2 separate regions of the Homo sapiens genome follow, and region 1 is linked to region 2. The links come from fine-mapping of genetic effects on gene expression. Tissue or cell type: cerebellar hemisphere. Region 2 holds a variant in brackets; the other region holds the start of a gene. All regions are shown on one strand. Distances are between the middles of the regions.

The links. PIP is the estimated chance that this variant, and not a neighbour inherited with it, causes the effect.
Region 1: PHTF1 starts here. The variant in region 2 is fine-mapped to the expression of PHTF1 in cerebellar hemisphere (GTEx, PIP 0.95).

Annotation. Positions count from the first base shown.
Region 1 is chr1:113,755,478-113,761,337 of GRCh38, forward strand. It overlaps PHTF1 (putative homeodomain transcription factor 1), which reads right to left and starts at 4,009. Exons shown (of 19, transcript NM_001323043.2): 1 at 3,546-4,009; 2 at 3,182-3,256; 3 at 2,222-2,278. The coding sequence starts at 3,226. RefSeq lists enhancers at 1,048-1,603, 3,882-4,461 and silencers at 2,649-2,778, 3,412-3,731.
Region 2 is chr1:113,568,027-113,576,126 of GRCh38, forward strand. All of the region lies in intron 2 of MAGI3 (membrane associated guanylate kinase, WW and PDZ domain containing 3), which reads left to right. Among named protein-coding and RNA genes, the nearest start is that of MAGI3, 180 kb to the left of the region's middle. The variant T/C (reference allele first, on the strand shown) is at 4,069.

The sequences.
Region 1 (5,860 bases), 190 kb after region 2:
TATTTTACATTTCATTCTTCCCACCGCCGCTAAATTTAAAAGCATACATTAAGGCGTGGTTAGGTAGATTACCCTATGAGAGAACGAGTAAAAAATATGCATGATGGATAGGGTTCAATTAACTATAGCAACAGACAGAGTTCCTAGTATGAATCAAGATGTTCTAAGAGTAGGAAACAAACACACTTCCTACCCTTAGGCCTATGAACACACATAGGTTAACAAATAACTTTGATATCATGCACTAAAAGGAAGGTATGTATTAAATGACATGGAAAAGAGTGAAGGAAATCAGGCAGGGCGCGGTGGCTCATGCCTCATGCCTATAATCCCAGCACTTTGGGAGGCTGAGGCAGGTGGATCACGAGGTCAGGAGATCGAGACCATCCTGGCTAACATGGTGAAACCCCGTCTCTACTAAAAAAAAAAAGTACAAAAAATTAGCTGGGCATGGTGGCGGGCCCCTGTAGTCCCAACTACTCGGGAGGCTGAGGCAGGAGAATGGTGTGAACCCAGGAGGCGGAGCTGGCAGTGAGCCGAGATCGCTCCACTGCACTCCAACCAGGGTGACAGAGCGAGACTCTGTCTCAAAAAAAAAAAAAAAAAGGGTGAAGGAAATCTTTAAATTGGCTAGGGGAAGAAGGTTAGATAACAAGGCTAGAGATCACAAAACAAGATCAAACTCCACTTCTATGCTGTTTCCATTACACCATACTTACTATCAGTGATGTTTAGCAGCTCACAAAAAAATAACAGGACAGGCTTTAGAGAATCACAAAATAAAATCTGGAGACTTATTCATCCTAACCCCATCTCCCACTAATATAAATAATCAAGGACTATACCAAATTGTGAAAAGTTAGTCGGCTACTTGTTGTTCAAGTAGCTTTCTATTGATTGGCCTATTTAACAGAACAGATAATATTAAGTTGTATTCACCCAGTTTTTTTAAGTATTAATGAAGGGTCTGCTGCAATACTTTTTGAAAGGTAATGCAAAAACAAGAATCAGCTGGCATTTATCAGCACTTTGCAAGGAAGTGAGGCCCTGAATCCATAAGATTTAAGTAAGTATTAAAGTCGCAGAGAGTTATATTCTTTTGAGGGCCAAGGATGGTTCTTTAGGCTTTTCCACATCTCAAGACTATCCAATTACATTTGGTTACCAAGCAACCATTCCATGATGAATTTGTACCAGCATCCCCAAATGGCTTAACCCCACAACTCTGACTTTGGAATATCAGAAGATAATTTAACCCTCTCCTCCCCTATTATAAGTTAATAAACTGGCATTCTGAATTATATAACAGTTTTTGGTCACTTGGTTAGTATAAAATAAGAATCCTCTCAGTTCTAAGAGCTGTGTAGAAAAAAGTTTAAGAACCTGAAAAACTTAAAACCATACTCTAGGCCGGGCGCGGTGGCTCACGCCTGTAATCCCAGCACTTTGGGAGTCGGAGGTGAGCAGATCACAAGGTCAGGAGATCGAGACCATCCTGGCTAACACAGTGAAACCCCGTCTCTACTAAAAATACAAAAAATTAGCCGGGCGTGGTGGTGGGCGCCTGTAGTCCCAGCTACTCTGGAGGTTGAGGCAGGAAAATGGCGTGAACCCAGGAGGCGGAGCTTGCAGTGGGCCAAGATCACGCCACTGCACTCCAGCCTGGACGACAGAGTGAGACTCTGTCTCAAAAACAAAACAAAACAAAAAAACAAACAAAAACACATACTCTAAGCCAGTGATTGAATAAAATGGGGGACCATAGGCTGGATTCAGGCCACAAATGGATTTTATTTGGCTTGCAAAGGAGGAGGAGGAAGAGAAGGAAGAGTCTCTTAAAAATCCGACACAAAATGCACAATATATTTCATATAAAAATGTGTATTTCCAGCTTCTCTTGAAAAATCTGAAACTCTGGCAATATTTGGACCTGCACTGCCAAGTGGTAAAAACTAGCCAGAGCTAAGTAACCCCAGCCCTATTTATATGGGACATTTGCTCTCTAATTCATCATAGAACAACTCACTCCTTTCTGTTTTCCTGATAGTGAGGCCAAAAATCAAGTGTCACTTCTCATTATGCTTGCACTGCTTTTCTTATAACCTTCAAAGATTAAAGAATGCCATACTGGTAGTTAAATGCAGAGTTTACCAGGTAAGTACAATTCCACTCTTCATATTAATGCAGTGAAACATAGGCGGAATCAAAGAAATCAATTTACCTTAATCTGAGTCTGTTCGATTGACTTTTCCCATATCTGCTGATCGTAGGCTCCAATCTGAAAGAGGGAGTAGTCTATTAGTTAAACGATGCAAAGGAAATCCTTACATTATTAAGTCAAGCCTCATAAAAGTCATGAGCCTATTAAGTATCAATATGCTATGTGGAAAATATGCTTCTCAAAAGTTAGAATAAATCAATACTTCGAAGGACTGTTTCCTTCAAAAATCTAAAATAGCTGGACCTAAAAGTAAGTTCAAAAGCAATGCCCAAAATATTTCAAATTAATATTACCTTAAAAGATATTTCCACTTCTTGGGCGGGCATGGTGGCTCACGCCTGTAGTTTGAGACCAGCCTGACCAACATGGTGAAACCCCGTCCCTACTAAAAATACAAAAAATTAGCCGGGCGTGGTGGTGGGCGCCTGTGATCCCAGCTACTCCAGAGGCTGAGCCCGGGAGGCGGAGCTTGCAGTGAGCCGAGGTCGCGCCATCGCCCTCCAGCCTGGGCAACAAGAGCGAAACTCCGTCTCAAAAAAAAAAAAAAAAAAAAAAAATCCACTTCTTAAGGAAAAGAGCACTAGAAAAACTAGAGAGGAATAAAAGATAAGGAACAGCTCAATAAGATTGTTGATAGTATCAATCTGAGCTGTGCACATACAGGTTTCATGTCTTTTTTGTTTTTAAGCAGTTTGATCAGAAGCAAACTTTCAAAGCATTGCGGTGGCATTGTGTATGCAGCCTGAAGGAGGTGGCTTGTAAACCTTATTCTGGGACCTGGAACCGGGTTTAAAAGACATAATGACCTTGTACATCTTTTTTTTTTTTTTTTCATTTATGTTGAAGTATACATGAACACCTGGCACTACTAAACTCGGGGGAAAGTAACATTATATTATTTGTGGGAGCTTTTTGCAGGAAGAATGCTTTACAAATAAAAAAAATATATATATGTATTACCTTCTTTTGGTACCACGATATAGCATCTCTCTCATTTGAGGCCATCTGTGTCTCCAGCCAGAGAATGGGATTTCACTGAAAATGAAGGAAAACCAATCGGTGAGTCCAGCTGCTGAAGGTTACTCTCCCAGTTTGGGTAGGACGCGAAAACCGCTTCTCTCAGCCTCTCCATGAGCTGCTCTTTCTCCAGCTGTTTGCCAGGGAAAACACAACAAACAAACAAAAAAAAACTGGCGCAGCGGCGACCGGAGAAGCCTCTGCAATATATCGGGCGAGCGTGTTCGTGGGTGCGGGGGAGGGGCAGGGGCCGCCGCTGGAGTCGCCCGGCACCCGCCTCCTTCGCTCGCCCGCGTCCGGCTCTCACCTAGTGCCCGTTGCCCCGCGGGCCGGCGCCCGGGACCTCCGTCCTCAGTGCCCGGGGTCCCACCGTGAGGCCGGGGGCGAGGCGGCGGGCCAGGCAGGCCGCATCTTCCCCTCCAGGCGGAGACGCCGGAGAGGCCGTTACCATGGAGACCGCGGAGGCCGCCCCAGCTTCGGAGGCAGCCGGCCGCCCAGCGCCCTGAGGGCGGCAAATCGATCGCCGGTCAGAGGCCGCCTACAGGGTCACGGACTGACCAGAAAATAAGCAGAGAATGAACTGGAAAATGAGGGGGATTAAAAGTGAAGGCCTCCAGTCGCCACGGCGACAGCAAAAGGCTTTGTGCCCAGCTGGAAAAGACAGGTGCAAAGGCCCCGGACCCCGAGAGCCCGGGAGCCCGGGAGGAGGAGGCGGCGGCAGCGGCGCTCGTCTTCTGCGGGCCGCGCCGGGATGCAGTGACTCAGCCGTCTGAGATCTGGGCTAGAGCCGCTCAGCCGACCACCGGGCAGCAGCCTTCGGCTTCCGCTTTCCGGCTTTCGCCGCCGAGGTGGCTCCGCCCCTGGCCCGGGGCCTTCCCGCCCAGCCTTGGTCCAGGCTCCGGGTCCGAGGGCCTGGGGAGTCGCGCGGCATATCGATGGCCAAGAGCAGCTCCCTCAGATCACCCTTCAGGCCTCAGCTTAAAAGTCACTTCCTCACAAACGACTCTCCCATCCAGCGGTCTAAAGGAGGTCGGTCCTGATACTCTAGTAGCTCACGTCTTTGTGGCACTCATTTTCGTGTTTCATGGCTTAATCTCTGTTCCCCAGTGGGCTGTGGGCTCCATGAGGTCAGAGACTGGGGCCTGGCACAAGCCTGGCACTTAGGTTCCCAATGTTTGTTGAGCGAACGAATCAATGTTTGCGTGAATTTACGCTGCCCTGGGAGGAAGGGCCAGGCTGCGGCTTAGTGACTCCCTTCCTCTCCCGCCCCTCAGCAGCTCTGGGTCTGGAGCTTTCTAGTGCTCAAAGGTGTAGGGGGAAAAGAGGAACAAGTATTGGGCAGTCACAGCTTTTTCCAAATTAGGGTAAAGTTAGGTGGCGGCAGGAACAGGTTAATTAGGGCCGATAGAGGTCAGGAGAAAGGAAAGAAAGGTTGAACCCTCAAGTGAATATTTAAGGATACGTTAAAAGGATTTTTAGGCTGCTTTTTTTTTTTTTTTTTTTTTGGCCATTAATGGAACACTGTCCCCTTACAGCCATTCTCCCCACCTTATTTGAAGCCGTGTTCTTGCTAGCCCACAGCGTGTAGCATCTGGGTCAGAGAAAGCTAATGACAGATGATAGCTTCACTTAAGAAAGCCTAAGAGGCGCTGTACTCAATGTTTTGCAGACATTATTTCTTCTTATCTATTGAGTGGGCACCAGGTGGAAGTTATCCCATTTCACGGATGAGGAAAATCGACTAAGCTAAAATAACTCCCACAGGACTAAGTTTTACAAATTACTTCACCCAGCCTGGGCGCAGTGGCTCACGCCTGCAATCTGGGCGCTTTGGGAGGCCTGAGGCGGAAATGTAGCTTGAGCACAGGAGTTTGAGACCAGCCTTAGCAACATGGCCAGACCCCGTCTCTTAAAAAAAAAAAATTAGCCGGGGGTGGTGGCGCGCACCTGTAGTCCCAGCTACTTCGAAGACTGAGGCAGGAGGATCGTCTGAGTCCACGAGTTCGAGGCTGTAGTGAGCTATGATTGCACCACTGCACTTCGGCCTAGGCAACAGAGACCTGTCTCAAATAAAGTAAAAATTATTTTACCCTTATTTTTATATTGCACACATTGGCAGTGGTTTCCTTCTGCTTTTGCTCCTTGACAGCTTTTCCTTTCCTTAGTGCTAAACATTACAATTCTGTTGAGCTTCAAGACAAATGGCCAACTTGAAAAAAGAGATAAATGACAAGTGAAAAACGTCGAATTTTGCACACGTAAATATTTAACCTCAATTACATTAATAGCAAAAGTACTTTACTTCACTGTTTGGCACACAGATTTTCAGGGAGTGTCTGGAGGAACTGAATCAGGTAAGAAGTATTAGAGAATAGTGGTAAGTAGTAAACCATTTTTCAGGTGCCCTGTTGGAAACTATTCAGTGCTTCCTGCGGCTACCAGCGAACAAGGTCTGAATCCTTGCTCCCAACCAATAATCTGTGATCTTAAGCAATTTATTCAACTAACAAGCCTGTTTTCTCACCTGTATTATGGAGATAGTCACCTTCTTAAGGATGTGAGGATTAAATGAGAAACCCTCATATAAACTGCCTGGCCCATGGCAGTTACTCAAAAAATGTG
Region 2 (8,100 bases):
TAATGTATGATTCCATTTGTATTAAATTATATTAAAGGCAAAACTATACTGACAGTAGGTCAGTAACTGCCCAGAGTGGAGGACTACAAAGAGGCCCAAGGAAACTTTGGGGGATAATGGTTTCCAAAGTTCACATAATTGTACTATTAGAATTAGTGCATTCTATTGTAGGTAAATTATTTCTTTCATACCATCAATATTTAGAAAATGAAAGTTTATGAAAATATTACTTACCATAGCATATAAGTTTTTTAAAAATACCTAGAAATTAACCTCTAATGAAACGTAAGTCCTCTATAGTGTGAAATTGAGGGATGCTAAAGAAGATCTAAATATGCTGACAGAAATTTCTTATTCATGAATTAAAGGCAGTATGGCAAAGATACCAGTTCTGCTCAAATTGACTTGTAGATTCAATGTAATTCCATAAAAATTTCAGCCTTTTTAGCCTGTTTATCTGATTCTAGAATGTATATGGACAGGCTTTGAATACAAAAAGCAAGATAGGTGGACTTGCTATACTATATATCAAGATTTATTAGGAAAATAGAATAATTATAACACTGATAATGATACCAGAATGGTCAGTAGATAGAAAGCCTAGTAGTAAACACCCAAGCTTATATAGACATTTCCATGAAAGAAGTGCTGTGGCTGATCAGAAGGGAAATTAATGACTTTTAATAAATTATTTTGAGTAGTCATTTGGAAAAAAAGGAAATTAGACTGGTACTTCTCACCAGCTCCCCCATCCCCACCATCTGTTTTTTGTGTTAAAGTCCTAGGTGTGAAAGGCAAACCTGTAGTGCTTTTTAAAAAGAATATAGAATATCTCCATAGCTTTAGGAAAGGATTTTTTTCAACTAGACACAAAAACCATTAGCTGTAAAGGAAAAGATTTATACATTTGACTACATTAAAATTAAGAGCTTCTGTCATCAAAATACAATTTCTTAAAAAGGTGAAAAAATCAGAATGTGACAAGATACTCTCTGTTCCTCTACATTTATTTCTGCAGTACAAAAAAGTTTACATGTGATTGGCACATATGTAGAAAATGACATGAATTTAACTCAGGTTATACTAGTTTCTATGCCATTTTCCTCAGCAAGCTAATGTTTTTTATCATCAAATAGCTACAAGTAAATAAAATAAAAGAACACAACTGAATATTGCAGCTGAGGAAGAATATGGCAGTGTATATGATACCTATACACTTCAATTTATCCTCTTTTCTGTTTGACCATGTGTTCTGTTTTAAAAATCTTTATTGCACTATTTGCCCTATCTTCATTATTTAGTAGCCTAACACTTTCTTATACCCGTTTCTGTCAAGCCACCTTTTCTTTTCATTCCTTTCATTTTCTTAAAAGACCAGTATTTTATTTACTCTGTTATTTTTAATTGGGAATTTAACATGTCTTTTAAACTGTATTAATATTTTAAATTAGGACCATTATTTATTTTGTTAGTGTTCTAGTTACAAAGTTGCAAAGGTTTTGAGAAGTCAACCATGACTCTATTTTCTTCATAATCTCTCTTATTATGGGTGCATGATTTTTCAGAAAGTACTATTTCAAGAAAACATATTTCACAGAAATCCCCCATTTGCAATACATATGTCTGACAATGGATCACAGTACTTCATCAATACTAAGACAGTTATTTCACATTTTAACATCTCTACAGTTGGGAAGCATCTTAGAATAGATGAAATCTTTCAATTATAATTGCCAGGGTTTTTTCTTTCTTAGAGATAAAATAATGATGCAGTTTAGAAGGGGTTGGTTACTTAGATTTGATGATTTACTATAATATTCAGAATATAAAGAATTATAAATCAATTTTATTTTATTTTTTATTATACTTTAAGTTCTGGAATACATGTGCAGAATGTGCAGGTTTGTTGCATAGGTATGCATGTGCCATGGTGGTTTGCTGCACCCATCAACCTATCATCTAGATTTTAAGCCTCACATGCATTAGGTATTTGTCCTAGTGCTCTTTCACCCCTTGCCCCCCACACCCCGACAGACCCCAGTGTGTGATGTTGCCCTCCCTGTGTCCATGTGTTCTCATTGTTCAACTCCCACTTATGAGTGAGAACATGTGGTGTTTGGTTTTCTGTTCCTGTGTTAGTTTGCTGAGAATGATGGTTTCTAGCTTCACCCATGTCCTTGCAAAGGACATGAACTCATCCCTTTTTATGGCTGGATAGTATTCCATGGTGTCCCTGTGCCACATTTTCTTTATCCATTCTATCATTGATGGGCACTTGGGTTGGTTCCAAGTCTTTGCTATTGTGAATAGTGCTGCAATAAACATACATGTGCATGTGTCTTTATAGTAGAAGGATTTATAATCTTTTGAGTATATACCCAGTAATGGAATTGCTGGGTCAAATGGTATTTCTAGTTCTAGATCCTTGAGGAATCGCCACAGTGTCTTCCACAATGGTTGAACTAATTTACACTCCCACTAACAGTGTAAAAACGTTCCTATTTCTCCACATCCTCTCCAGCATCTGTCATTTCCTGACTTTTTAATAATCGCCATTCTAACTGATGTGAGATGGTGTCTTGTTGTGGTTTTGATTTGCATCTCTGTAATGACCAGTGATGATGAGCTTTTTTTCATATGTTTGTTGGCCACATAAATGTCTTCTTTTGAGAAGTGTCTGTTCATATCCTTCGCCCAATTTTTGATGGGGTAGTTTGTTTTTTTCATGTAAATTTGTTTAAGTTCCTTGTAGATTCTGGATATCATACCTTTGTCAGATGGATAGAATGCAAAAATTTTCTCCCATTCTATAGGTTGCCTGTTCACTCTGATGATAGTTTCTTTTGCTGTGCAGAAGCTCTTTAGTTTAATTAGATACCATTTGTCAATTTTGGCTTTTGTTGCTATTGTTTTTGGTGTTTTAGTCATGAAGTCTTTGCCCATGCCTACGTCCTGAATGGTATTGCCTAGGTTTTCTTCTAGGGTTTTTATGGTTTTAGGTCTTACGTTTAAGTCTTTAATCCATCTTGAATTAATTTTTGTGTAAGGTGTAAGGAAGGAGTCCAGTTTCAGTTTTCTGCATATGGCTAGCCAGTTTTCACAACACCATTTATTAAATAGGGAATCCTTTCCCCATTTCTTGTTTTTGTCAGGTTTGTTGAAGATTAGATGGTTATAGATATGTGGTGTCATGTCTGAGGCCTCTGTTCCATTCCATTGTTCTATGTATCGGTTTTGGTACCAATACCATATTGTTTTGGTTACTTTACCCTTGTAGTATAGTTTGAAGACAGGTGGTGTGACGCCTCCAGCTTTGTTCCTTTTGCTTAGGATTGTCTTGGCTATATGAGGTCTTTTTGTTTCCATATGAAATTTAAAGTAGTTTTTTCTAGTTATGTGAAGAAAGTTAATGGTAGCTTGATGGGGATAGCATTGAATCTATAAATTACTTTGGGCAGTGTGGCCATTTTCACAATATCGGTTTTTCCTATTCATGAGCATGGAATGTTTTTCCATTTGTTTGTGTCCTCTCGTATTTCCTTGAGCAGTGGTTTGTAGTTCTCCTTGAAGAGGTCCTTCATGTCCCTTGTAAGTTGGATTCCTAGGTATTTTATTCTCTTTGTAGCAATTGTGCATGGGAGTTCACTCATGATTTGGCTCTCTGTTTGCCTATCATTGGTGTATAGGAATGCTTGTGATTTTTGCACATTGATTTTTGTATCCTGAGACTTTCCTGAAGTTGCTTATCAGCTTAAGGAGTTTTTGGGCTGAGAAGATGGGGTTTTCTAAATATACAACCATGTCATCTGCAAACAGAGAAAAATTGACTTCCTCTCTTCCTATTTGAATACCCTTTATTTCTTTCTCTTGCCTAATTGCCCTGGCCAGAACTTCCAATACTACGTTGAATAGGAGTGGTGAGAGAGGGGATCCTTTTCTTGTGCCAGTTTTCAAAGAGAATGCTTCCAGCTTTTGTCCATTCAGTATGATATTGGCTGTGGGTTTGTCATAAATAGCTCTTATTATTTTGAGATATGTTCCATCAATGCCCAGTTTATTGAGAGTTTT[T/C]AGCATGAAGGTGTATTGAATATTATTGAAGGCCTTTTCTGCATCTATTGAGATAATCATGTGGTTTTTGTCATTTGTTCTGTTTATGTGATGGATTATGTTTATTGATTTGCATATGTTGAACCAGCGTTGCATCCCAGGCATGAAGCCAACTGGATCGTGGTGGATGAGCTTTTCTATGTGCTGCTGGATTCAGTTTGCCAGTATTTTATTGAGGTTTTTCGCATCGATGTTCATTAGGGATATTGACCTGAAACTTTCTTTTTTTGTTGTGTTCTGCCAGGTTTTGGTATCAGGATGATGCTGGACTCATAAAATGAGTTAGGGAGGAGTCCCTCTTTTTCTATTGTTTGGAAGAGTTTCAAAAGGAATGGTACCAGCTCCTCTTTGTACCTCTGGTAGAATTTGGCTGTGAATCCCTCTGATCCTGTGCTTTTTTTGGTTGGTAGGCTATTAATTACTGCCTCAATTTCAGAACTTGTTACTGGTCTATTCAGGAGTTCGACTTCTTCCTGGTTTAGTCTTGGGAGGATGTATGTGTCCAGGAATTTATCCATTTCTTCTAGATTTTCTAGTTTATTTGTATAGAGGCATTTATGGTATTCTCTGAAGGTAGTTTGTATTTCTGTGGGATCAGTGGTGATATCCCCTTTATCATTTTTTATTGCATTTATTTGATTCTTCTCTCTTTTCTTCTTTTTTATTCTGGCTAGTTGCCTGTTTTGTTAATCTTTTCAAAAAACCAGCTCCTGGATTCATTGATTTTTTGGAGGGTGTTTCATGTCTCTATCATCTTCAGTTCTGCTTTGATCTTGGTTATTTCTTCTGTTCTGCTAGCTTTTTTTTTTTGAGACAGAGTCTCACTCTGTCACCCAGGCTGGAGTGCAGTGGCACAATCTCGGCTCACTGCAAGCTCCGCCTCCTGGGTTCACACCATTCTCCTGCCTCAGCCTCCCAAGTAGCTGGGACTACAGGTGCCCGCCACTACACCCTGCTAATTTTTTGTATTTTTAGTAGAGACAGGGTTTCACCGTTTTAGCCAGGATGGTCTCGATCTCCTGACCTCGTGATCTGCCTGCCTCAGCCTCCCAAAGTGCTGGGATTACAGGCGTGAGCCATTGCACCCAGCCCTGTTCGGCTAGCTTTTGAATTTGTTTGCTCTTGCTTCTCTAGTTCTTTTAATTGTGACATTAGGTTGTCTATTTTAGATCTTTCCAGTTTTCCGATGTGGGCATTCAGTGCTATAAGCTTCCGTCTAAACACTGCTTTAGCTGTGTCCCAGAGATTCTGGTACATTTTGTCTTTGTTCTCATTGGTTTCAAAGAACATCTTTATTTCTTCCTTAATTTCGTTATTTACCCAGTAGTCATTCAGGAGCAGGTTTTTCAGTTTCTAAGTAGTTGTGCAGTTTTGGGTGAGTTTCTTAATCCTGAGTTCCAATTTGATTGCACTGTGGTCCGAGAGAGCGTTTGTTATGATTTCCGTTCTTTTGCATTTGCTGAGGAGTGTTTTATTTCCAATTATGTGGTTGATTTTAGAATAAGTGTGATGTGCTGAGAAGAATGTATATTCTGTTGATTTGGGGTGAATAGTTCAGTAGATGTCTATTAGGTCTGCTTGGTCCAGAGCTGAGTTCAAATCCTAAATATCCTTGTTAATTTTCTGTCTTGTTGATTTGCCTAATATTGACAGTGGGGTGTTATAGTCTCCCACTATTATTGTGTGGGAATCTAAGTCTCTTTGTAGGTCTCTAAGAACTTGCTTTATGAATCTGGGTGCTCCTGTATTGGGTGCATACATATTTGGGATAGTTAGCTCTTGTTGCATGGATCCCTTTACCATTATGTAATGCCCTTCTTTGTCTCTTTTGATCTTTGTTGGTTTAAAGTCTGTTTTATCAGAGACTAAGATTGCAACCCCTGCCTTTTTTTTTCTTTCCATTTGCTTGGTAAATATTCCTCCATCCATTTATTTTGAGCCTGTGTGTGTCTCTTTGCACATGAGATGGGTCTCCTGAATACAGCACACCAAAAGGTCTTGACTCCTTTATCCAATTTGCCAGTCTGTGTCTTTTAATTGGGGTATTCAGCCCATTTACATTTAAGGTTAATATTGTTATGTATTAATTATATCCTGTCATCATGATGCTAGCTGGTTATTTTGCACATTAGTCGATGCAGTTTCTTCATAGGGTTGTTGGTCTTTATATTTTGGTATGTCTTTGCAGTGGCTGGTACCAATTTTTCCTTTCCATATTTAATGCTTCCTTCAGGAGTAAGGCAGGCCTGTTGGTGACAAAATCCCTCAGCATTTGCTTGTCTGTAAAGGATTTTATTTCTCCCTCACTTCTGAAGCTTAGTTTGGATAGATTTGAAATTCTGGGTTGAAAATCCTTTTCTTTAAGAATGTTGAATATTGGTCGCCTACTCTCTTCTGGCTTGAAGGGTTTCTGCAGAGATCTGCTGTGAGTCTGATGGGCTTCCTTTGTAGGTAGTCTGACCTTTCTCTCTGGCTGCCCTTAACATTTTTTCCTTCATTTCAACCTTAGAGAATCTGACGATCATGTGTCTTGTGATTGCTTTTCCCAAGGAGTATCTTAGTAGTGTTCTCTATATTTCCTGAATTTGAAAGTTGGCCTCTCTTGCTAGGTTGCGGAGGTTCTCCTGGATAATATCCTGAAGTGTGTTTTCCAACTTGGTCCCATTCTCCCTGTCACTTTCAGGTATACCAGTCAATCATAGGTTTGGCCTTTTCACATAGTCTCATATTTCTTGGAAGCTTTGTTTGTTCCTTTTCATTCTTTTTTCTCTAATTTTGTCTTTATGCTTTATTTCATTAAGTTGATCTTCAGTCTCTGATATCCGTTCTTCCACTTGATTGATTTGCTTATTGATACTTGTATATACTTCATGAAGTTCTCGTGCTGTGTTTTTCAGCTCCATCAGGTCATTTATGTTTTTCTCTAAACTGGTTATTCTAGTTAGCAGTTCCTGTAACCTTTTATCAATGCTCTTAGCTTCCTTGCATTGGGTTAGAAGATGGTCCTTTAGCTCAGAGGAGTTTGTTATTACCCACCTCCTGAAGCCTACTTCTGTCAATTCATCAAACTCATTCTCTGTCCAGTTTTGTGCCCTTGTCAGAGAGGAGTTGTGATTATTTGGAGGAGAAGAAGCATTCTGGTTTTTGGAATTTTCAGCATTTTTGTACTGGTTTTTCCTCATCTTTGTGGATTTATCTACCTTTGATCTTTGATGCTGATGGCCTTTGGATGGGGTTTTTGGGTGAGCGTCCTTTTGGTTAATGTTCATGTTATTGCTTTCTGTTTGTTAGTTTCCCTTCTAATAGTCAGGCCCCTCTTCTGCAGGTCTGCTGGAGTTTGCTAGAGGTCCACTCCAGACCCTGTTTGCCTGGTATCACCAGCAGAGGCTGCAGAACAGCAAAGATTGCTGCCTGCTCCTTCCTCTGGAAACTTCCTCCCAGAGGGGCACCCACCTGATGCCAGCCAGAGCTCTCCTGTATGAGGTGTCTGTTGACTCCTACTGGGAGGTGTCTCCCGGTCAGAAGGCATGGGGGTCAGGGACCCACTTGAGGAGGCAGTCTGTCCCTTAGCAGAGCTTGAGCAGTGTGCTGGGAGATCTGCTGCTCTCTTCAGAGTCGGCAGGCAGGAACATTTAAGTTACTGAAGCTGCACCCACAGCTGCCCCTTCCCCCAGGTGCTCTGTCCCAGGGAGATGAGAGTTTTATCTATAAGCCCCTGACTGGGGCTGCTGCCTTTCTTTCAGAGATGCCCTGCCCAGTGAGGAGGAATCTAGAGAGGCAGTCTGGCCACAGCCGTTTTTCTGCGCTGCAGTGAGTTCCACACAGTCCGAACTTCCTGGCGGCTTCCTTAACACTGTGAGGGGAAAACCACCTACTCAAGTCTCTGCCATGGTGGATGCCCCTCCCCCCACCAAGCTCGATCATCCCAGGTGGACTTCAGACTGCTGTGCTGGCACTGAGAATTTCAAGCCAGTGGTTCTTAGCTTGCTGGGC